3 linked regions of the Homo sapiens genome follow. The protein of the gene in region 3 interacts with the protein of the main gene of each other region in a biochemical or structural test. Each region holds a gene or a part of one and is shown on either strand. Other genes may lie near its edges.

The links. Proteins that work in one complex are often made in the same cells at the same time.
Region 1: the proteins of KLHL22 (region 3) and DEPDC5 form a complex in vitro, tested with the Homo sapiens proteins (one study listed by BioGRID).
Region 2: the proteins of KLHL22 (region 3) and GLUD1 are reported together in a solved structure, tested with the Homo sapiens proteins (one study listed by BioGRID and IntAct).

Annotation. Positions count from the first base shown.
Region 1 is NC_000022.11:31,813,019-31,820,196, forward strand, and holds part of DEPDC5 (GATOR1 complex protein DEPDC5), read left to right. Parts: intron 1-1,973; coding exon 1,974-2,194; intron 2,195-2,397; coding exon of another isoform or gene 2,398-2,411; exon of another isoform or gene 2,412-2,973; intron 2,974-6,003; coding exon 6,004-6,207; intron 6,208-7,178. UniProt on the Homo sapiens protein: As a component of the GATOR1 complex functions as an inhibitor of the amino acid-sensing branch of the mTORC1 pathway.
Region 2 is NC_000010.11:87,049,666-87,056,843, reverse strand, and holds the end of GLUD1 (glutamate dehydrogenase 1, mitochondrial isoform a precursor), read left to right. Parts: intron 1-3,439; coding exon 3,440-3,502; intron 3,503-4,973; coding exon 4,974-5,093; 3' UTR 5,094-6,642; downstream 6,643-7,178. UniProt on the Homo sapiens protein: Mitochondrial glutamate dehydrogenase that catalyzes the conversion of L-glutamate into alpha-ketoglutarate. Plays a key role in glutamine anaplerosis by producing alpha-ketoglutarate, an important intermediate in the tricarboxylic acid cycle.
Region 3 is NC_000022.11:20,492,318-20,500,813, reverse strand, and holds the start of KLHL22 (kelch-like protein 22), read left to right. Parts: upstream 1-5,018; 5' UTR 5,019-5,054; intron 5,055-7,249; exon of another isoform or gene 7,250-7,555; coding exon of another isoform or gene 7,556-7,666; intron 7,667-7,672; exon of another isoform or gene 7,673-8,496. UniProt on the Homo sapiens protein: Substrate-specific adapter of a BCR (BTB-CUL3-RBX1) E3 ubiquitin ligase complex required for chromosome alignment and localization of PLK1 at kinetochores.

The sequences.
Region 1 (7,178 bases), about 11 Mb from region 3:
TGTGAGCCACTGCCCCCGCCAGATTTCTTAACTCTGTAGCTTTAAGCGCAACTGAGTGGAAGAATATTATGTCTCTTAATTTTGTGGCAAATGAACTTAGAGTGACCACATGATTGTTTTCTGCCCTTTTCTCTCATCCAGTCCTACCTGAGAAGGCTTAGAGCTCAGAATTAAGTGCTGTCAGCAGCCTCTCTCCTATGTGTGGATGCTGCTTAGGGGCTCAGTAAGAGCTACTTAGGGGCTTTTCTTTGTAGTCTTTAAAAATGCTCTCATAGTTCAAGATTGATTTTCTTTTTCTAATTAAAGATGACAAGACCTGGTGGTACCCAGGTTGTGTGGTCTCTGAAGGCACAAATTGTGTCTTAATTGGTGCTACCTTCACACATGGCTAAGCGTATACTGGTGTTTAAATATTTACTGTGGAAAGAACAAACATGTAGTCAGCACTTGGAATCTGTTTTCAGGCTCCGTTTAAGCTCTTACTAAAAAAATCCTTCCAGGAGGAAAGGGAGCAGCTCTGATGCCAGAAGGGCAGCCCCGTTGGTGGGCTTGCTTTTTCGTTCTGAGCTTTTGCTTCTCTATAGGGCTTCTTTCTTTTTGATCCTTCTTCCTGTTGCTTTTAGAGGTTTTCCCCTTAGGGAATTTTATGTTTTAATAAGGCTATATATATATATATATATATGCATATATAAACTTTTATTAGGAAATGTTCAGACGTGCTCAAATAGAGAATAGTATCATGAACAGTTATCACCATGTTGTCAGCCTTGTTTCATGACCTCTCCCACGTTTAAATTTTGGATGGAATATTTTAAAAACAAATCCCAGGATTGGCCGGGCACAGTGGCTCACACCTGTAATCCCAGCACTTTGGGAGGCCAAGGCAGGTGGATCACTTGAGTTCAGGAGTTTGAGACCAGGCTGACCAACGTGGTGAAACCCCGTCTCTACTAAAAATACGAAAAAAGTACCCAGGCGTGGTGGTGGGCGTCTGTAATCTCAGCTACTTGGGAGGCTGAGGCAGGAAAATCACTTGAACCCAGGATGTGGAGGCTGCAGTGAGCTGAGATCATGCCACTGCACTCCAGTCTGGGTGACAGAGTGAGACTCCGTCTCACAAAAACAAACAAACAAAACAAACCCCAGGCAGCCTCTATTTTTTTTCAATAATACATACTTCAGCGTAAGTTTCTTTCTTTTTTTACATGTTATTTATTTATTTAGTGTCACCCAGCCTGGCACAAAGCTGATTAGTATATGTTTCAACAAATAAGAACTAAAAGAAAACCCATCACGGTACCATTATCATTGGTAACAAAATTAACACTAATCCCTAAATGCCCTCTAATAGCCAGTGCATAGTCAGTTTTTTGAATTGCCTCAAAAATGTGCTTTTGCAGTTAGTTTGAAATGGGACCTAAACAAGATCCACTTTTTGCATTTGGTTATAATGCCTTTTGTGTGTGTGTGTGACAGTAGAATGTCTTGCTTTCTACATTTGGCTGATTGTTGCCTTGTAGTGTTTCAGTTTTCCTCTATTCTGCAGATTCCCTGTAAACTGGCAATTATCTCTGGAAGCTTGATTAGATTTAGATTCAAATTTGAGGGCAAGTAGACTTCTTGGGCACTATGTTCTTTCTCCCACATCACATCATACCTCTCTTCTCATTCTGTTTTTAGTGATGAGAGATTAATCAGTGGGATTAGGTGGGGTCAGCCTGGAGCAGTCCTTTCTTTACAACTATGATCCTAGGACTTTGGCTGCATAATGTCTGTCATTTCCCCCCTCTCTTATATAACATCTCAAGCTGTTAAGGGTGAAGTACCGCATACAGGTTTCCCACTTGTAGATCACACTGGGGATTTTTGTTATTGGGTTCCATGTGGCTTGGGCTGGTGATGGGTTTTAGTTTTAACTCAAGGTAGGACAGCATCCCTCGCTTGATGGTAACTTTTTGTCTCTTGCCTGGCAGATCTGTGCGAGAGCGAGAGAGTCACAGTCGAAAGAGTGCCAGCTCCTGTGATGTTTCATCCAGCCCTTCCCTACCAAGCCGCACACTGCCCACTGAGGAAGTGAGGAGCCAGGCTTCTGACGACAGCTCCCTAGGCAAGAGTGCCAACATCCTGATGATCCCACACCCCCACCTGCACCAGTATGAAGTCAGCAGCTCCTTGGGATACACCAGCACTCGAGGTAAGAGTGCTGAAGCACAGACAGAGCCAGGGACATCTTTCTTAATATAGTGGGTGACTGGAGGTGGGAGGATTGGTCAGAGGTGGGGTGTAAATCCCACATCTTAATGATTTCTTTGCCAGTGCAGTAGGTACAAATCACTTTAGCTGTTAGCTATGTATATATTATACTTCTTTTTTTTTTTTTTTTTTTTTTGGTGACAGAGCACCTAGGATAAAGTGCAGTGATGCAATCACAGCTCACCTCAGTGCGGCCTTGAACTCCTGGACTCAATCGATCCTCCCACCTCTGCCTCCCAAGTAACTGGGACTATAGCATGCCACCACACCCAGCTGATTATCATATTTTTTTTTGTAGAGGTGGGGAAGTGCAGTGATGCAATCACAGCTCACCTCAGTGCGGCCTTGAACTCCTGGACTCAATTGATCCTCCCACTTCTGCCTCCCAAGTAACTGGGACTATAGCATGCCACCACACCCAGCTGATTATCATATTTTTTTTTGTAGAGGTGGGGTTTTACCATTCCCAGGCTGGTCTTGAACTCCTGGACTCGAGGGATCCACCCATTGGCCTCCAAAAGTGCTGAGATTACAGGCATGAACCAATGTTACCGCACCCTGCCTCTATTATACTATTTTTTGTTTAGCCTTTCTTCATCCATCATTTAACTGTATGCCTTTCCATATGTTAATGGAAAGCTTTTCTTAGGCCTAGGGTCAAAAGGGTTTATTTCCTTATGATTTCCATTTGTGCCATATATAAAACAACCTCTGTCTTAATGTTGCATTTTAGTTTCTCATTTACCGGTCGGGCGCAGTGGCTCACACCTGTAATTCCAGCACTTTGGGAGGCCAAGGCGGGTGGATCACTTGAGGCCAGAAGTTTGAGACCAGCCTGGTCAACATGGTGAAACGCCGTCTCTACTCAAAATACAAAAATTAGCTAGGTGTGGTGGCGGGTGCCTGTAATCCCAGCTACTCAGGAGGCTGAGGCAGGAGAATCACTTGAACCTGGCAGGCGTAGTTGCAGTGAGCCGAGATTCCACCACTGCACTCCAGCCTGGGTGACAGAGGGAGACTCCACCTCAAAAAAAAAAAAACAAAAAACTTTTTTTTTCACTTACCTGTTTTTTTTTAACTTTTATTTGCATTGATTTTGTACCGAATTTATTCCCATACTATCAGTTTTTGTTTCTTCAGTTTCTTTCTTTTCTTTTTTTTTCTTTTCTTTTTTTCTGAGACAGAGTCTTGCTCTGTTGCCCGGGCTAGGGTACAGTGGCATGATCTCAGCTCACTGCAACCTCTGCCTCCTGGGTTCAAGTGATTCTCTTGCCTTAGCCTCCCAAGTAGCTGGGATTACAGGCACACACCACCACACCAGCTAATTTTTGTTTTTTTAGTAGAGATGGGGTTTTGCCGTGTTGGCCAGGCTGGTCTCAAACTCCTGGCCTCCAATGATCCACCCACCTCGGCCTCCCAAAGTGCTGGGATTACAGGCGTGAGCCACCATGCCTGGCCTTGGGATATCTTTTTCTTCTGTGCAATGTCCTCTTCTGGTTTAGGAATAATTTATTCCTTTTCCATGAGGATCATCTTGGTTTCGCAGGGGGAGCTCATGTATGGGTTAATCTGACCATGAGCTCTTTACATCAGGCAGCACATCTTGGGTGCTTTGTTCACCTGGACATGCTCAATGACCAGAGGATCTGCACCTGAACCCTTAAGTTCGGCATGACTGTGCATTTTTAAGCATATGTAGCAATAATTCAGTACTCTTTTTTGGCCACTGACCCCGTGTGCAGCCGTGCTGTGTGGCCTGGGACCACCTACTATCTCCATCATTGTAATGTGGAAATGGTACACATTGTTTCTGTAAAGTGACATATTTCTTTCTTTCTTTCTTTCTTTTTTTTTTGTGATGGAGTTTCACTCTTGTCCCCCAGGCTGGAGTGCAATGGCGTGATCTTGGCTCACTGCAACCTCTGCCTCCCGGGTTCAAGCAATTCTCTTGCCTCAGCCTCCCGAGTAGCTGTGATCACAGGTGCCTGCCACCATGCCTGGCTAATTTTTGTATTTTTAGTAGAGATGGGGTTTCACCATGTTGGTCAGGCTGGTCTCGAACTCCTGACCTCAGGTGATCTGCCCACCTCAGCCTCCCAAAGTGCTGGGATTACGGGCGTGAGCCACCTTGCCTGGCCAAAGTGACATCTTTCATATACTTGGTGGCTTTTTATATATGCATACCCTTGATGGCCTGAGCAGTTTCATGGGTGGTTTCTTTTATTTGTTTGTTTTGAGACAGGTTCTCACTCTGTTGCCCAGGCTGTAGTGCAGTGGTACAATATTGGCTCACTACAGCCTCAACCTCCTGGGCTCACGTGATCCTCCCACTTCAGCCTCCCAAATAGCTGGGACTACAGGTGTGCACCACCACACCCGGCTAGTTTTTAAAGTTTTTGTAGGGACGGTCTCAATCTGTTGCCCAGGCTGGTCTCGAACTCCTGGGCTCAAGTGATCCTTCCACCTTGGTCTCCCAAAGTGCTGGGATTACAGGAATAAGCTACTGTACCTGGCCTGTACTCATCTTTTTTTTTTTACTAGGTTTTTCTCTTTTATTTCCTTAATAACTAACTAGACTATGTTCTTTTTTATTTTGTAAGTTAGAGCATCAATTCATTAATTTACAATGAACAGTAAAACTTTCACAGAAATCTGAACATTCTCTTCTTTCCTGCAAAGCAACTTGAGGAATGAAATACAGTATTACAGTGTATGAGGTTCTGTGCTAGGCATTGGGTAGATAATGATGGCCAAGACAAATTCCTTGGAGTTTGCATCTGCTGGACCCACTTTTTCATCTGGGTGGTTGCTTAATGAACATGGAATACACACAAGAAGAGTTGGTTGTGGATTTCAGTTCTTTGATCCACTCAGGCATGCTGTCTCTGTCTCCATAATGGGACCTGTCTACCATTGCGCCAGACAGGTGGTGTCTAAATATCATACCATCTCCTTGCCTGGTCAAGGCTGGAGGCATCCATTTCTTCGTTATTTTTTTCTCAGTAATTTTTTTAGCATAATAACATTTTATTGCTTACTCATGTCCCAGCCCACTAAGTCAGTGGAGGGGCTACTGATCCACTCAGTCCATTCAGGAACTCAGGTTCCTTCCATCCTGGGATGCCATGATTATCAACATTGGTCTCCTGGGTTGCCACAAAGGGAAAAAGAATGCAGATCATTTGTGGAGATCATTGTGGTCCAGGCCTGGATTTGAAGCATATAATTTCTACCTGGCCAGAACTAAGTCATTTGGCTTTATTGCAAAGGGTCTGGGAACTATAGTCTTGTGTCCAGTAGGAAAATCAAATGGGTTTATAGTGAAGACATTGACTAGCTCTGCCAAGATCTGCCCTTCTGGTGACCACATAGCTATTTTTATTGTTCCTCCCTCTTAGAGAATATACTCGTTCCTTTCCCAAGGGAGACAACTCAAGTCCCATCATTCAGTCATTGCTTCCAGCTCAAAGTTCAGGATCTTCAGGCAGTGTCCTTCCCATCAGATTTGGTTGTGACTTCATTTTGCCAGTAATTTAGAACCAAAACTCCCTTCTCCCAAGTATTTAAAAGCAAACAAATGCAAACATATTTCATTTCTTTATAGTTTGACAGTTTTGCTCATTTCTCTCACTCCCTGACATTTATAATGCCCAAGATTCTTGTCAGCCTTGGTTTATCATTCTACCTAGCTCTGGTTTCACTGTGGTTCTGTGGTTTTTCTTTGTGACTCAACTCCATGATAACTGGCAGATGTCCTGGAGAACATGATGGAGCCACCACAGCGAGACTCCAGTGCACCAGGGAGGTTTCACGTTGGCAGTGCAGAATCCATGCTGCATGTTCGACCTGGTGGATACACGCCCCAGAGAGCACTGATTAACCCCTTCGCTCCCTCTCGGATGCCCATGAAGCTTACGTCCAACAGAAGGCGCTGGATGCACACTTTTCCTGTGGGTAAGTTGGTTGCTTAAGAGAGAGCCTTGGACTAGGAGCTCCTAGCCCTGGTCCTCAGTGTCGGTCACCCATGTGTCCTTGGTCAGGTGCCTCTGTTGCTCCACCTGTAAGATGGGATAACCATGCCCACTTTGGCCATCCCAGGGGTTCTTGTAAAGATCCTTGAAGATGCACTTGGGAATAGGCTTTGTAACTAATTAGCTGTATAAACCTGAGGGCTTTTTTGTTTGTTTCTGCCCTTTTTTTTTTTTTTTTCTTTTGAGACAGGGTCTCACTCTAGTTGCCTAGGCTGGAGTGCAGTGGTGCAGTCTCAGCTCACTGCAGCCTCAACCTTCAGGGCTCAGGTGATTCTCCCACCTCAGCCTCCCAAGTAGCTGGGACTGTAGGTACGTGCCACCAGGCCTGGCTAGTTTTTTGTATTTTTAGTAGAGACAGGGTTTCACCATGTTGCCTAGGCTGGTCTTGAACTCCTGGACACAAGCAATCTGCCCACCTTAACCTCCCAGAGTGCTGGGATTATAGATGTGAGCCACCGCATCCGGCCCTTTGTTTCTATTTGAGAGGAACTATGCATTGCCACCTGCTTTCTTTCCTAAGTCAGATGTCCCTCATTCTTGTTCATTCCTTCTTCTCTTAGATCTCTTGGATATTGATATCCTGTCTTGGTTACAAGGAGTTATGTTGTTTTGTTTTCTGTTAGGTCTCTCTGACAACTGAAAAAAAATTTTCCCCTGAATTCACTTTTTCCTAGTCCATTCTTTTTTATCTATATTCTGTTCTCAAGAAGATGACAGTAAGATTGTCTCAAGCTGTGGCTAAAATTAAACTTTAGCTTAATGGGCTCTTATTGAGCTGGAAAGGAACAAATGCATTAAACTCCAGGATTTTGTGTGTGTGTGTGTGTGAGACAGTGTCTCACTCTGTTACGTAGGCTGGAGTACAGTGGCGTGATCTCAGATAACTGCAACCTC
Region 2 (7,178 bases), on a different chromosome or scaffold from region 3:
GAGTTTTTTTTTTTTAATGTATTAACAAAAACAATGGATCTTATGTTCTCCATATATGTGGTGAAACAGTTGTACCTTTATTCTAGTGACGGTGTAGATTGGTGCAGCTCTTTGGAAAATGTGAAGTTATTAAAGTGTTCCTGCCCTTTGGTGCTATGACAATCTCCCCTCTGGGAATTTATCCTAAGAAAATAATTCAAAAGAGGAGGAACCACTCCATGCACGATGATGTTATTGAAACTATGTGTAGGCCAGGTGCGGTGGCTCACGCCTATAATCCCAGCACTTTGGGAGGCCAAGGCAGGTGGCTCACCTGAGTTCAGGAGTTCAAGACCAGCCTGGCCAACATGGTGAAACTCCGTCTCTACTAAAAATACAAAAAATTAGCCAGGCATGGTGGCACGCACCTGTAGTCCCAGCTACTCGGGAGGCTGAGGCAGGAGAATCGCTTGAACCCAGGAGGCAGAGGTTGGAGTGAGCCAAGAAATGCACCGCTGCACTCCAGCCTGGGCAACAAGAGCGAAACTCCATCTCAAAAAAAAAAAAAAAAAGAAACGGTGTAAACAGTTTTTAAATTTGGTTTTATTTAAAGTTTAGGAGCAGGGAAATGGCTGACTTATATCTTATAATACATCTTAGGTAATATTCACTCATAGTTTAAGAATATATTACAATGGGTAAATTATATCTTCTTTTTTTTTGGTTTTTTTTTTTTTTTTTTTTTTTTTGAGACAGAGTCTCGATCTGTCACCCAGGCTGGAGTGCAGTGGTGCGATTTTGGCTCACTGCAACCTCTGCCTCCCAGGTTCAAGCAATTCTCCTGCCTTAGCCTCCTGAGTAGCTGGGATTACAGGCGCCCGCCACCACACCCAGCTAATTTTTTTGTATTTTTAGTACAGACGGGGTTTCACCTTGTTGGTCAGGCTGGTCTCAAACCCCTGACCTCGTGATCCACCCGCCTCGGCCTCCCAAAGTGCTGGGATTACAGGCGTGAGCCACCGCGCCCGGCCGTCAATATATCTCCTTATGAAATATTCAGTGATGGAAAACAGTTCTGAGACTATATTGCAACATGGGAAAAAGTTAAAGATTTTGTTGTAAAGAAAGAAAAAATGCTTTACCCATTCTAGGTACTAACCGTTCCCCTCAGTAAACTTCCTATTTCCTAGAGTGATGTCTTTGTTCTGGTCCTTTTATCTGGAATACACTGATCTCCTCCCTGCTTAAGTGTCACTGCAGTTCTGTGGCTCTCTCTGAAAGTCTCCTGTGTGCCACTGTTTCGTACATAACATCCATCCCAAGTGGCTAGCAGTGCATCGGAAGGACTTGCGCTGCTACTGTCCCTGCCAGAGGGCTGTTCACCCCTCCCTTTGGTCACCCCACTGCCCAGCATATGCCTTGTCAGTTAAAAAAATAAAAGTTTTCTCAAGCTCTCTCCCTCTAGTTTCCCCCTGCCCCTGTTTGGCACTATCAGGACCCACATCATGACCCTGCCATGTTTCCACTGTCCCTCATCCCCCCAGTGCCCTCACTTCCCTCCTTATCTAACTTAAATTCCGTGCTCCATCATTACAGTCACTCCCCAGTCTTGTTTCCTTTGTCATACTCCTTTGTTAACACCTAAGCCCTGATTAAATCCCAGCAGCCCTGATTAAATCCCTGATTAAATCCCGTGCCTCTACCCTGTAGGAGGCCCTGCTGGCAGTTCACACCCTGACCACTAACCTCAAGTAGGCGCTCAGAGCTGCCCAGCAGTCATACTGCTTTTCCGTGTTTCATTCATTCTCCCCGTCTCCTGAGTGATTACATCACATTTTCTCCTCTTCTCACTGCCCTGCATTCCAGCTCATGACCTGCTATCTGTTCACAGATAAAACTGATGCAGCCTGGGAGCTTCCGCATCTACCCAGCTCCTGGTACCTGTACCCAGTCCTGTGTCATCTCTCTTCGAATAGATCAGCTCTTTGTGCTTTCATTTCTTAGGTCCAGTTCTTGTTGTGGGCATTGGATGGTTTTTCCTCAGATACACTGCTCTAGCAAGTCTGCTCCTCTCTCCTACATCAGCAGTTTCCCTCTGAGTCATTCCCCTCAGCTTACCAAATGCTGTTTTAAAAAATGTATAAATCTTAATCCCACTTCCCCTTCCAGTATTGCCATTTGTTTCCTGTAGAGCAAACCTCCTTGGAAGAGTTGTATATACTCAGCCTCCAATTCTTCTTTACTTGAACCTACTCCACCAAGACTATTCTTGTCAAGACAGCCAGTGACACCAGCATTGCCAAATCCAGTAGCTATTTTTCAGTCCTCATCTTGCTTGACCTATCAGCAGTTCTTGTTACAACTGACACTCCCACCTTGAAACATTTTCTTCTCTTAGCTTCCAGGATACCACATTCTCCTGGTTTTCTCCCTACCTCACTAAACATTTCTTCTCAATTGCCTCTTGCTGGTATCTCTTCAACTCTTCACTCTCCTAACATTGGAAGGCCTGCGTCCCTAAACCACTTCTCTATCTAGATTGAAAACTTCAATGATCCACTTAGCCTTGTGGTTTGAAGTCCATGTATATACACTCTCTTCCCACTACAATATAAAGTCTGTGAGAACAGAATTTTGATTTTATTCTCTACTATGTCCCCTAGTACCTGGAAGAGTATGTACTCAGTAAGTGTCCAAACTATATCAGTGACCCATTTTAAGTTTTTATCGGGCATATGTGTTTTGTAGCTCTGTATGTCACCTTAAGAGTGGTAGTGAGTTAATTGTCCTTAATTTTTTAGAAAGCATTCCAAGAAACAAATTAGGAAAGAGAGAACTGACTTGATGGTGGAGGCCCTGAGTCATATCCCAGCTCTGAAAATAGCTATCTGTAACCTTGGCCATCTTCTCTGGTCCTTAGTTTCCTCATCAGTAAAATTAAAACGCTGCTGAGATCTACACAGCTTTAAAAGTTGCTGGCACTACTGAATAGATACACAGAATTCTACCCCAAAGCCGCTATGGGGTTTAATCAGATTCCTTTCTGTGTTCTGTGTGGTGTCCCTGTTCTCTGGGGAGCTGAGGCGAACGCACCGTGGCATGAACAGTGTAACACATTGCTCAGTGCATCTGCGTCTCCATGAGTGGAGGGTGCTCATCTCACTCCATGCCCTCATGTCTCTAGGTCCAAAAACTGTCTTCATTGTTGTACTATAATCTTATTTCATGAGTATTTGTTTGCTGTCAAATATAATAAAAATAAATTGTGATCAACAAGCAACTGCTTCAGTAAGTATCAAGATACTGTATCTTTGATACTGTGCAGAAATGACATATCTTAGCTAAAAGACAAAAAATTCTGTCTGGTTGTATATTGACTTGAGAATCCTTTGTCATCTTATACAGGGACACAAAGCAGGTCTTTGTGGTTTTGTTAAACTTGTGTTCTTTTCCCTAATAGGGTGCATCTGAGAAAGACATCGTGCACTCTGGCTTGGCATACACAATGGAGCGTTCTGCCAGGGTATGTGTGCAGATGCTGTTTGCCTTCCAGCTAGTCACATGAAGTGCAACTCAACCATGCTATCTCAGCCGCCAGACTGTATGTGCTGATAGAAAACATCAATCTGTTCAATGGTCCTCATTTGTGTGTAGCAAAACACATGTTTTTTCAGTCTCAGATGATAAGCAATTTTTTAGAGTCTTCAAATATGTTTTTGAGGCTTTGGAAAGAAATAATAAGGCTGATTTAGGAGGTAATGATGTTGGCAGCTAGCCCAGTATGGAGTAGTTAGCCAAACTGGATTGTAGCTCCATGTGCCACTATGTTATAGCTACGGGAGTCTACCTTACTATAGAATTTGGTATAAGCAAAACTTATTTTGACTGCTTGATCCCTACTTTAAGGCCTCAACCACAGTTTGAGTCCAGTTTTCCTAATTTCTTCTTGGGTTCAGATTCTATCTGCTTGGATTTATGATGAAATAGCATAAGCAGATATTGGTGAAGAAGGTGGTGCTTCTTAGGGCTGTTGTTTTTCTTGTTAATTTTTGATCGAGATAGGGTGTATGTGGTATAAATTCATCCTTTCAAAGTATTAAATTCGGCATCCTTTATTATATATTTGAGCCATCACCACTTTATAATTCTAGAACATTTTCATCACTCCCTTTTTTTTTTTTTTTTTTTTTTTTTTGAGACGGAGTTTTGCCCTGTTGCCCAGGCTAGAGTGCAGTGGCGCACTTTCAGCTCACTGTAACCTCCACCTCCCAAGTTCAAGCAATTCTTGTCCCTTAGCCTCCCGAGTAGCTGGGATTACAGGCATGAGCCACCATGCCCAACTAATTTTTGATTTTGTTTTCATTTTGTTTAGTTTTTTGAGATGGAGTTTCGCTCTGTCACCCAGCTGGAGTGCAATGGTGCAATCTCTGCTCACTGCAACCACCGCCTCCTGGCTTCAAGCAATTCTCCTTCCTCAGTCTCCCGAGTAGCCGGGATTACAGGCGCCCACCCCCACACCCGGTTAATTTTTTGTATTTTTAATAGAGATGGGGTTTCACCATATTGGTCAGGCTGGTCTCGAACTCCTGACCTCAAGTGATCCACCTGCCTCAGCCTCCCAAAGTGCTGGGATTACAGGTGTGAGCAACCGCACCCCTGCCTAATTTTTGTATTTTTAGTAGAGACAGGGTTTTACCATGTTGGCAAGTCCGGTCTTGAACTCCTGAGCTCAAGTGATCTGCCTACGTCGGCCTCCCAAAGTGCTGGGATTACAGGCGTGAGCCACCGCACCCAGCCACCCCATTGTTAAGTCCAGAGAATTAGGCCCTCCTGCCTAGAGGTTCTGCTGCTAGAGTAGTTTGTCTTTGGCTGCCCAAGTCCTGCCTTGAAACAATGAGAGGGTAACTTGGACCAGGCCTGTCTGGGCCTTGTGTGTTTATGGCCTGGCCACTTGAGTCAGGATCATCTTCACTGCATTTTCTCTTTCATTTCAGCAAATTATGCGCACAGCCATGAAGTATAACCTGGGATTGGACCTGAGAACAGCTGCCTATGTTAATGCCATTGAGAAAGTCTTCAAAGTGTACAATGAAGCTGGTGTGACCTTCACATAGATGGATCATGGCTGACTTCCTCACTATCCTCTTCACATGTAACTTCTGCAGACCTATCACAAGTTTACATGTAACCACAGAAATCCCTTTCTCTCCTGACTCATTAATAATGGATACCATTCTCAACAAGTCAATCCAAGTCAGCCCGTTAAGGAGAAAGAAATTAAGGTTAGCGGATCATGTACAAGCTGAGTGTGAAAGTAGAAATCACCTACACCAGAGAGCCATTTTGGTATTTTGCCTTTAAATAAAAAGCCTCCTTTATCTGGCTGTGCAGCCTTGCTCTGTGGCTTTTCCCAACACAATCAGTGCTAGTGCTGGGGAGGAACAGTCAAGAGCAGTCAGTTGCTTGCTTATTTTTTCTGGATGAGTCTGGGACACACTGTAACTTTAACACATTTAAGAAGTAGGTGTGTGGCCTTTTCAGAAGGTGGCATGGTCCTCAAGTGAGTTCTTAGTATTTTATATCAGCAAAATAATTCAATTTTGCAGGTTGCAAACAAATATAAAACCTGTTTCTGTTTATGAATATTATTCTTTTAGAATAGAATAAGTACATGCTGCTGTAATAAAATTGCCTTTAATCACTTAACAAGCCTAACCTTGACTCAAACAGTGAATGCCTATAGAAATAATAAATGAAAAAAACTAGTATTTTTATATCATAAAACAATGTCATTTATAGCTTATCATTCATGTATTGTCCAGCAGACATTAAAAGCCCTGTGGATAATTAAGTTATCTTCATACCTGCAAAATGGTGGAGGCTATTTTCATTAAAACTGTCAGAATTTGCTTACTATAATTATGATACAGTCCAAAGAATGCAGTCACTTTTTATCATGTTAACTAATTGTTCTCTTTTGAAGATCTATGGTTGACTAATTAAACAATAATTCAAGTAGAGTGTCCCAGAAAAAAACCACTTGGGCTCCCTGTTTGGAGTCTGGCTGGCTCTGAGCATTGCCAATGGCCCCTACTCACCTGACTTTGTATCCTCTCCTTTTAGAGGCTTTGCATTCTGCACCCAGCTTCACTAACAGTGGGCTGAAAACATCCTTGGGTTGAGTGTTTCATTTGGGAGTTATTTGGCCAGGGCCTTTTGAACAGTAGTGTCCCCATGAAGTGCTAGATAATATATGTGTAAGAGTCAGCTTTTTTTTTTTTTTTAACTCTAACACCCTTCAGAAATTTCTAACTACTTTGTAACTGCATGGCTTAACCTGGTGATAAAAGCAGTTATTAAAAGTCTACGTTTTCCAAAACTTACGTTTCTTTTCTGTGTTTTTACATGTGGTAGTTTCTCTTTTCATAAGTTATAATACTGCAATTGGATTTCTGAAATGTTTATAGCGACCACCTGTATAACATTTCCTTCCACTTTATTGTGAGCTGCCCAGATTTTATTCTTGAATTGTTTTTTTTTTTTTTGTTCGGTGCTTTACACGTTCAGAGAAACTTCCCGAGTAACGAACTATAGAAATGATCCCTGAAAGCATAGTCTTTATTCTCGAATTATTTTGTATTTTATTAAATAATATGAACAGCTGTTCTTGAGAAAGAGGCTCTAATGTTGAAAGCTGATAGTGAAGTAACTTTTAGTGCCGTTTTTCACTAAAGGGGATTTAATGTGGAATAATTTAGCCACAGAATGTAACAACTATTGAAGAGAGAATACTAACTGTAATCAGAACTGGATTCTAGACTTGATTCCACCAGTTACTTAACTGCCAGTGTGAAGCCTGGCTTTCATTTGGTCTTTGTCCGTATGTCACAGTTCTGCCTCTGCATGCTCCTGGCATAGGGTCAGTCAGATAAACAGGCCCCCAGTATATGGGCATAGTGAGCCCTTCCCCAGCATGGTGGTGTCTATCTGCACTCTAGGTGGGCTACTAAAATGTGTAAGGGGGAAAGTGATACAAAAACCAGTTCCAGAATGTTAGAATAATGGTGGGGCAGCAGATTTAAGTCATGTGAATGTGGGATAAGTCTTAGTGGTGGCCTTTGACTATATATTGGAAATACTGATTTTTTTTTGGTTGGGGGGTTGGTTTTTGTTTTTTGAGACAGTGTCTTGCTCTGTCA
Region 3 (8,496 bases):
TTACAGGCGTAATCCCAGCTGGGCACTGAGCCACTGTGCCCAGCCCCACTTATGCCATCTTCTGATCATAGAGCTGTAAAAAAAAAAAAAATCCTTTCAAATATCTCATTGTCAGTTTTCAGCCAGAACAGATAGTACATATTCCTGGCAGTACTGAACACTCTTCCCTACTACCACCCTGCCCACCCACCACTTTTCTTCTTGTAAACCAAAGGTACCTACCAAGCAACTCAGAACCAAGACCAATAAGCATTTTATGACTTAACCATGGACAAAAGAGACATCCTCAAGGCTGGGCACAATGGCTCATGCCTGTAATCTCAGCACTCTGGGAAGTCAAGGTGGGAGGACCACCTGAGGCCAGGAGTTCCTGATCAGTCTGGGTGAGACTCTGTCTCTTAAAAAAGAGAGAGAGAGAGAGAGAAAGACACACTCCAAAGAGGGTGCACAAAGATTCAGCACTCTCAAATCCAGACCCCTTGCAAAGACAGTCAAAAGAAAGAAGGCACCTTTGGGTTTTTTTTTTTTTTTTGAGACGGAGTCTCGCTCTGTCACCCAGGCTAGAGTACAGTGGCGCGATCTTGGCTCACTGCAACCTCTGCCTCCTAGATTCAACCCATTCTCCTGCCTCAGCCTCCCGAATAGCTAGGATTACAGGCATGCGCCACCACACCTGGCTAATTTTTTTGTATTTTTAGTAGAGACAGGGTTTCACCATGTTGGTCAGGCTGGTCTCTAACTCCTGACCTCGTGATTTGCCTGGCTCAGCCTCCTAAAGTGCTAGGATTATAGGCGTGAGCCACCGTGCCTAGCCAGAAGGCACCTTTGTTGACACAGGTGACTAAGGATGTCATCTTGTACAGAACACTGTCACGTCTCCAGTCATGGACTGGCTCATCTATCACACCAATGAATACTGAGACAACAAAAACCCCTTATAGACTTGGCCCACTTACAAACTCCTCTGTCATGGTCAGAAAAAGAGAAGGTTCAGAACCTTCTCTTTGGCCGGGCGTGGTCCCTCATGCCTGTAATCCTAGCACTTTGGGAGGCTGAGACAGGTGGACTGAGGCCAGGAGTTCCTGACCAGCTTGGGTGAGACCCTGTATCTTAAAAATAAAAGAGGCCAGCCACGGTGGCTCATGCCTGTAATCCCAGCACTTTGGGAGGCCGAGGTGGGCAGATCACCCGAGGTCAGGAGTTCGAGACCAGCCTGACTAACATGGTGAAACCCTGTCTCTACTAAAAATACAGAAATTAGCTGGCGTAGTGGCAGGTGCCTGTAATCCCAGCTACTCAGGAGGCTGAGCCGAGATCCCGCCATTGCACTCCAGCCTGGGTGACAGAGCAAGACTCCGTCTCAGAAAAGAATTAAAAAAAAAAAAAAAAAATCACCCTGCGCAACATGATGAATCCCCCTCTTTACTAAAAATACAAAAAAAATTACCTGGACGTGGTAGTGTGTGCCTGTAGTCCCAGCTACTCAGGAGGCTGAGGCAGAAGAATCAGTTGAGCCCAGGATGCAGCAGTTGCAGTGAGCCAAGATCATGCCACCATGCCACTGCACTCCAGCCTGGGCGAAAGAGCAAGACTATTAAAACAAAACAAAAAACAAACAAACAAACAAAAACCAAACTTTCTCTTTTTCTGACCGGGACAGAGGAGTTTGTAATAATGCAAGCTGTTACTTGCAACCCTAACGCAAGCTGTCCTAAAGCAAGCTGTCACTTGCACCCACTGGCTATTCAGAGATCAGGGAGAATATTCTCACTGGTCATAAAGCCAAGCTCTCAGGACACAAATAAAACAAACAGGAAAGAGGTAGCTGTGCCTGGGAGGAAAGGATCAATAACAAACAGTTACCCCTCAACCAAATTTAAGCAAGAGTCACAATCCAGACACAATGTTTTCTTCTGCTAATTTGAATTTGGAAAGGAAGGGACAAGAAGTTTTTACCTTCCACTCTCAGCTGAGTACTACAGGCAGTGATATGGGACAGTTAACCTTGGTAAGAATGCTTACCTTTTGCCAGTTGTCCCAAGTGGGGTGTCTTTGCCACCCCACTTGTTTGTTGGGTGCCAGAAAGAGTAGGGGGAAAAGGTAATATTTTTTCCTCACGCATCACAAGGTTCCTGGTTGACACCCCTCTAACAAAGGACAGATTAACAAGAGAAAAGCATATCAATTTATTTAATATAAATTTTATATGACACAGTAGCCTTCAGAAAAAAGCCCCAGTGTCTAGTGAGGGGTCCGTTCTCTGCTTTTTTTTTTTGAGACGGAGTCTTGCTCTGTCACCCAGGCTGGAGTGCAGTGGCGCGATCTCAGCTCACTGCAAGCTCTGCCTCCCGGGTTCACGCCATTCTCCTGCCTCAGCCTCCCAAGTAGCTGGGACTACAGGCGCCCACCACCATGCCTGGCTAATTTTTTGTATTTTTAGTAGAGATGGGGTTTCACCATGTTAGCCAGGATGGTCTTGATCTCCTGACCTCATGATCCTCCCACCTCGGCTTCCCAAAGTGCTGGGATTACAGGCGTGAGCCACTGCGCCCAGCCGATTCTCTGCCTTGAAGATGGTGCTTATTACAGTGTCCTCACCTGGCAAAAGTGGGGGATGAGCTCCTTCGAACCTCTTTTATACACTGATCCCATGGTGAGGACTTCACCCTCATGACCTAAACCCCTCCCAAAGGCCCTACTTTATAATAGTATCGCACTGAGGATTCAGTTCCAACATATGAATTTTGGGGGTACCGACATTCAGACCACAGTGGCCTTCTTGTTGCTGCCCCAGGATTCCTTTTCCTCTCCTCTCTGGGTCCACCCGTACACCTGGTCCCATTGGGCCTTGGAGGTCAGTCTTCCCCTACCTGGAGCCAAGGGGGGCCTCATCTTCCCCCAGACCTGCTCTTGCTCTGGCTCCCCTGTAGGCAGGGTGGGCCTACTTCCCCACCCATCTCCTGGGCTCATTCTTCACACATCACTGGGCTTATACTGGGGAACCTGCTTCCTTCCCAGGTTTCTAGCCTGCTCCACTCTGGTCTTCACTCCCTGCCTGAGACCACAGCACTGTGGCTGGCTCCCTACTCAGTCTTCGTCTCTACCATATTGGCATCTGCCCACCCTGGCTACAGGGTGCCCTCAGGGCTAAGTCAAGCCTCCAAAGGGCAGGGTCTGCTCTCCAACCTTCCCTTCAGGCTCAGAAAATTCTGGAAACCTCCACACCACTCACTTTGAAGGATCTCACCTCCACGTTTGCTGACACTGTCGGCTTCCTGGAATGCTTTTCTTAATCCCAAAGTCCTCCTCTGTTACACAGTAGGGGGGTCTCCTCCAGAAAGTCTTTCTAGGAGGAAGCCCACTCCCATTTGGAACCTCTGCCTCTGGAGGCCAATCCCGTTCTCTTGATCCTTGTCTGGGACCCTCAGTTATCTCTCTGGACTCAGCCAGGACAGCAATTCTCTTCCGTGTATTTTCCTCCTTTTACATTCCCCTTCCACCAATTTTTTTTTTTTTTTTTTTTTTTTTTTTTGAGACGGAGTCTCGCTCTGTCACCAGGCTGGAGTGCAGTGGCGCGTGATCTCGGCTCACTGCAACCTCTGCCTCCCGGGTTCAAGCGATTCTCCTGCCTCAGGCTCCCGAGTAGCTGGGACTACAGGTGCGCGCCACCACGACCGGCTAGTTTTTTTGTGTGTGTTTTGGTAGAGATGGGGTTTCACCATGTTGGCCAGGATGGTTTCCATCTCCTGACCTCGTGATCCGCCCGTCTCGGCCTCCCAAAGTGTTGGGATTACAGGCGCCAGCCACCAAGCCCGGCCCCACCTTTCTTTTTAACCATGAGCCATCTCCAGCCACATCCTCCCCCTACCACTCTCTCCACCCTTCACAGTCCCTCTCAAAACCACAGTGTGGGACACTCCAACCTTATCCCATCAGGAGGCTCTGTGGCTCCAAGCTCTGGGCGCAGCCATTACGGATACGCCTCGGAGGATGGGACCTGCTCGAAGGTGAGGTGGAGAACAATGAATGCCAAGACCCGCGCACGGACCTCTGGGACCAGGCTTTAAGACTGGGAATTAGATTTACTGCAAAATCTCAGTAAAGGAACGGGCACACAAACTAGCACCTGTTCACTCTGGCGGTGTTAAGCGATTCTCCCCGATATCCCGCAGGGGGCGCGCTACGGTCAGCGGCACCGACCGCGGAGGGAGCGGGGAAGGAGCAGGCCGCGGGAGGGAGGGAATGAGCGCGTGACGAAGGGAACAAGTGGAGGAGAGGAGGAAAGAAGGGAATCAAAGAGGGAGGGAGGCAATGGGAGAAGAGGAGAGGGAGGGAGGGAAAGAAGGGGGGAAATGAGACAGGGAGGGAAGGAATGAGAGAGGGAGGAGAGAACGAGAGTTAAGGAGGGAGGGAAAGGGAATGAGAGAGGGAGGGGATGAGAGGGGGAGACAGGGAGGGAGTGAATGAGTGAGGGAGGAAGGGAATGGTGGGTAAGATAGGAAGGGAAGGAATGAGAGAGTGAAGGAGGGAGGGAATGAGAGGGGGGGAGTAAGAGAGGAGAGAAGAGAGTGAAGAAGGGAATGAGGAAAGGAGAGGGAGGATATGAGCGGGGAGGGAGATAGTGAGGAAGGGCAGGAGGAAGTGAGTCGAGGAATGAGGGTAGGACCGAGGCAAGGAAAGAGTCAATGGATTCAGACGGGGCGACTCTCGGCAAATTCGCTCATTCGTTGGTTCGGCCCCGCCAAGTGCCAGGTGCCGCGCTAGTGCGGGGACTCACTGAGCCTTGGCGATCGCTGCTGTCCTCCGCAGAGCGCCGGAGTGGAGCCGCCCCCTGTCTCCCCGCCCCAGGGCCGCCCCCGCGCTGCTACCCGGCCAGGCCGGGAACCCCCGGGCCTACGTCTGGCCCGCCCGGCGCCTGCGCGGCGCACCCACGTGACGGCCCAGGCCCCCGCCCCGCCGGCTCCTCTCGCCCAGCCTCCCGCCTCGCGCCTCCCGCCTCCCGCCTCCCGCCTCCCTCCAGCTGCGAGTGCGGCCTCGGCTGGCGGCGGCACCAGGTCAGCTGCGAGGCGTGAGCCGAACGGGCCGGGCGGCAGCGAACGCGGGGGTCGGGCGGCAAGCAGGCATCGCTGGGCCGGGGACAAGCTAGCGGCGCGGAGTCCGAGGGGCGCGGGGGCGGGCGCGGGCCGGAGGCTCGGGGGCGGCGACCTGAGGAGAGCCCGCGGCCTGACGTGGCGGGGACGCGGCCGGCGGGATCCCCGGGCGCGGGCGCGTAGGGGCCGGGATCTGGCGCTCGGCCAGGGGCCAGGGTGCGAGGCCTCCTCAGCGCGGCTGCTGGCGCGCCGGCCTCCTGGCACCCGGGCGGGCCCTGTTGCCTGCGGCAGGTCCGAATGCGGCCTTCCTGGCCGCGACCCTCCGCGCTGGAGCGGGCGGCCTTGCAACAGGCGGGCGATTTGGGGCCGGCCTGACGAGCCTCAGTTCCCTCGATCGGGCCCGGGGACTGCAGCCGTAGGAGCCCAGCCTTGCCAGCTCTCCCGGTTTCCTGAGAGGAGCCGGAGATCGCGCTGTCAGTGCAAAATCACCAGAGCGCGAAGCGTCGGCTGCCAGTTCTGACCATTTTAGATCCGGTGCGGGCCGAGCCGAGTGGATCTGGGGCGGGCAGCGGGGCACCGCCACCTTCCGCCTGGGCTCCTCACTGGGCGCCCTCGCTCCGGCCCTCCGCGGGGCCGAGTGCCTCCAAGACGGCTCCCTGGGAGATTCTTCCAGAGCGCACCCTTTGGAAGGCTGCCCCGCTGGGAATCAGCACCCACTCCCTCTCCTCTACCGCAGCCGCCCCCTTTGCCTTTGTGGCCGACCTTGCTTCATGCTGCCAAGGATTGAGTTTCTTTGAGGGGATACTGCTCGTTCGGGGGCCCTACAGAAGGCTGAGGGTATCTACTCAGTAAAATCGTACCGAACTGAAAGTTCCTCTGAAATGATTTTGACTCTGCCATCCATCACTTCATAAAAATTCATCTTGTATCCTTCAGTTTGTAGCTATGTGGCACATTAAGCTTCCTTTCTTCTCCCCACTGAAACTTCGAACAGTACAAAACGGGGAACTTGGCTTGTGATGACTAAAATTGGGGATATGAGACTGGGGGCGGGCGCGGTGGCTCATGCCTGTAATCCCAGCACTTTGGGAGGCCAAGGCTGGCAGATCACCTGAGGTCAGGAGAGACTAGCCTGGCCAACATGGTGAAACCCCGTCTCTACTAAAAATACAAAAATTAGCTGGGTGTGGTGACACGTGCTTGTAATCCCAGCTACTCGGGAGGCTGAGGTAGGAGAATCGCTTGAACCCAGGAGATGAAGGCTGCAGTGAGCCAAGACCCTACCACTGCACTCTAGCCTACACCATATAGTGAAACCTCTTCTCTACAAAGAAAATTTGAAAAATTAGCCGGGCGCAGTGGTGAGCTCCTGTTGTTCCAGCTTCTGAGGAAGCTGAGGTGGGAGGATCACTTGAACCTGGGAGCTTGAGACTGCAGTGAACCCCAAGCTGTCTCACCCCAGATAGCCAGGACTACAGGTGTACACCACCATGCCTAGTTAATTTTTAAATTTTTTGTAGAGAAAGGGTCGCGCTATATTGCCCAAGGTGGTCTTGAACTCCACCTACCTGGACCTCCCAAGGCACTGGGATTACAGGCATGAGCCACCATGCCCAGCCTACTTTGCACTTTTTTTTTTGGGGGGGGGGCAAAGTCTGGCTCTGTCGCCCAGGCTGGAGTGCAATGGCACAATCTTGGCTCACTGCAACCTCCACCTCCTGGGTTCAATCGATTCTCCTGCCTCAGCTTCCCCCTTCCTCAGCCTTCCCAGTAGCTGGGATAACAGGCATGCGCCACCACGCCCCACTAATTTTTGTATTTTTAGTAGAGATGGGGCTTCCTCATGTTGGCCAGGCTGGTCTTGAACTCCTGACCTCAGGTGATCCTCCCACGTTGGCCTCCCAAAGTGCTGGGATTACAGGCATGAGCCACTGTGCCCAGCCTACTTTGCACATTGTTTTTTTGTTTGTTTTTTTGTTTTTGAGACGGAGTCTCGCACTGTCATGCAGGCTGGAATGCAGTGGCGTGATTCTCCTGCCTCAGCCTCCCAAGTAGCTGGGATTATAGGCACCTACCACCATGCCCGGCTAATTTTTTTGTATTTTTAGTAGAGATGGGGTTTCACTATGTTGGCCAGGCTGGTCTTGAACTCCTGACCTCGTGATTCATCCGCCTCAGCCTCCCGAAGTGTTGGGATTACAGGCGTGAGCCACTGCGCCCGGCCACTTTGCGCATTTTGACTGTTGCCTAATGTTCTGTCAGATCACTGTGCCATGACATCTGTTCTCCTGAGGGTGGACGTTTTGGTGATTTAAAACCGTATAGATGTGGTTTTAAATGTTTTAAATGTTGCACCCTGTGCTGTGCTCCTTCCCAGCAGAGAATTGATTCATTTTTCAGCATATCCCCCTTAGCCCCTAGCTAAGTTTCTTAAATTGGACTTGGTAAATGTGCTTTGCCTGCCCATGGAAGATGTCTTTCTGTTTTACCGTACTTGTTTTTGCAGTATGGGTTTAGGGAGTAGCTGCCATTTATCCCTTCCCAAGAGAGCAGAGGCACTACTATGCTCACGGAAGGTGAGGATCCACCTGGGGGCTTGATGTCTATTGGGGTAGTTGTGGAGGTCACCCTCAGAGAAGGAGGCCCTCTTGACTCTGCGGTGGTCATGGTGGTGATGAGAAAGCTGAGGCGTGGGTATATGAGACAAGTGCCCAGAGTCTGTCATTAGCAAGTGGTACAGCCAGCCATGGGGGCTTTTGAGATGTTTGTGAGATAAAACCTCACCCCTCAAGAAGCCGGAATCTCCTTGTCGTGGGTAAATAGGCAGGTTTGGGCCGGGCGCGGTGGCTCATGCCTGTAATCCCAGCACTTTGGGAGGTCAAGGCAGATGGATCACCTGAGGTCAGGAATGCGAGACCAGCCTGACCAACATGGTGAAACCCCATTTCTGCTAAAAATGCAAGAAAATTAGCTGGGTGTGGTGGTGCACGCCTGTAATCCCAGCTACTGGGGAGGCTGAGGCAGGAGAATCACTTGAACCTGAGAGGCAGAGGTTGCAGTGAGCCAAGATCACACCACTGCACTCTAGCCTGGGTGACAGAGCGAGACTCCGTCTAAAAAAAAAAAAAAGGGCAGGTTTGAATGGTGGGGCATATTTGTCATGTTCTCTGTACAATGATAGAGGGAGAAGTAATCGAGCTAGACCTTGACCAATATGGGACTATGAGAGACAGAATGGCCTAGATGGGTGACTAAAGGTGTTCAGGGGATGACAGGTATCCCTTTTGGACTAAGGACTGCTGATGGGGCTGAGTAGGTAAGGCTTGAAGGAGAGCAGCCTGGGGAGGATGAGACAAGAGGTAGGGAAACTGGTAGGGGCATCACTGCTGTGGTCTGACCCAGAGTG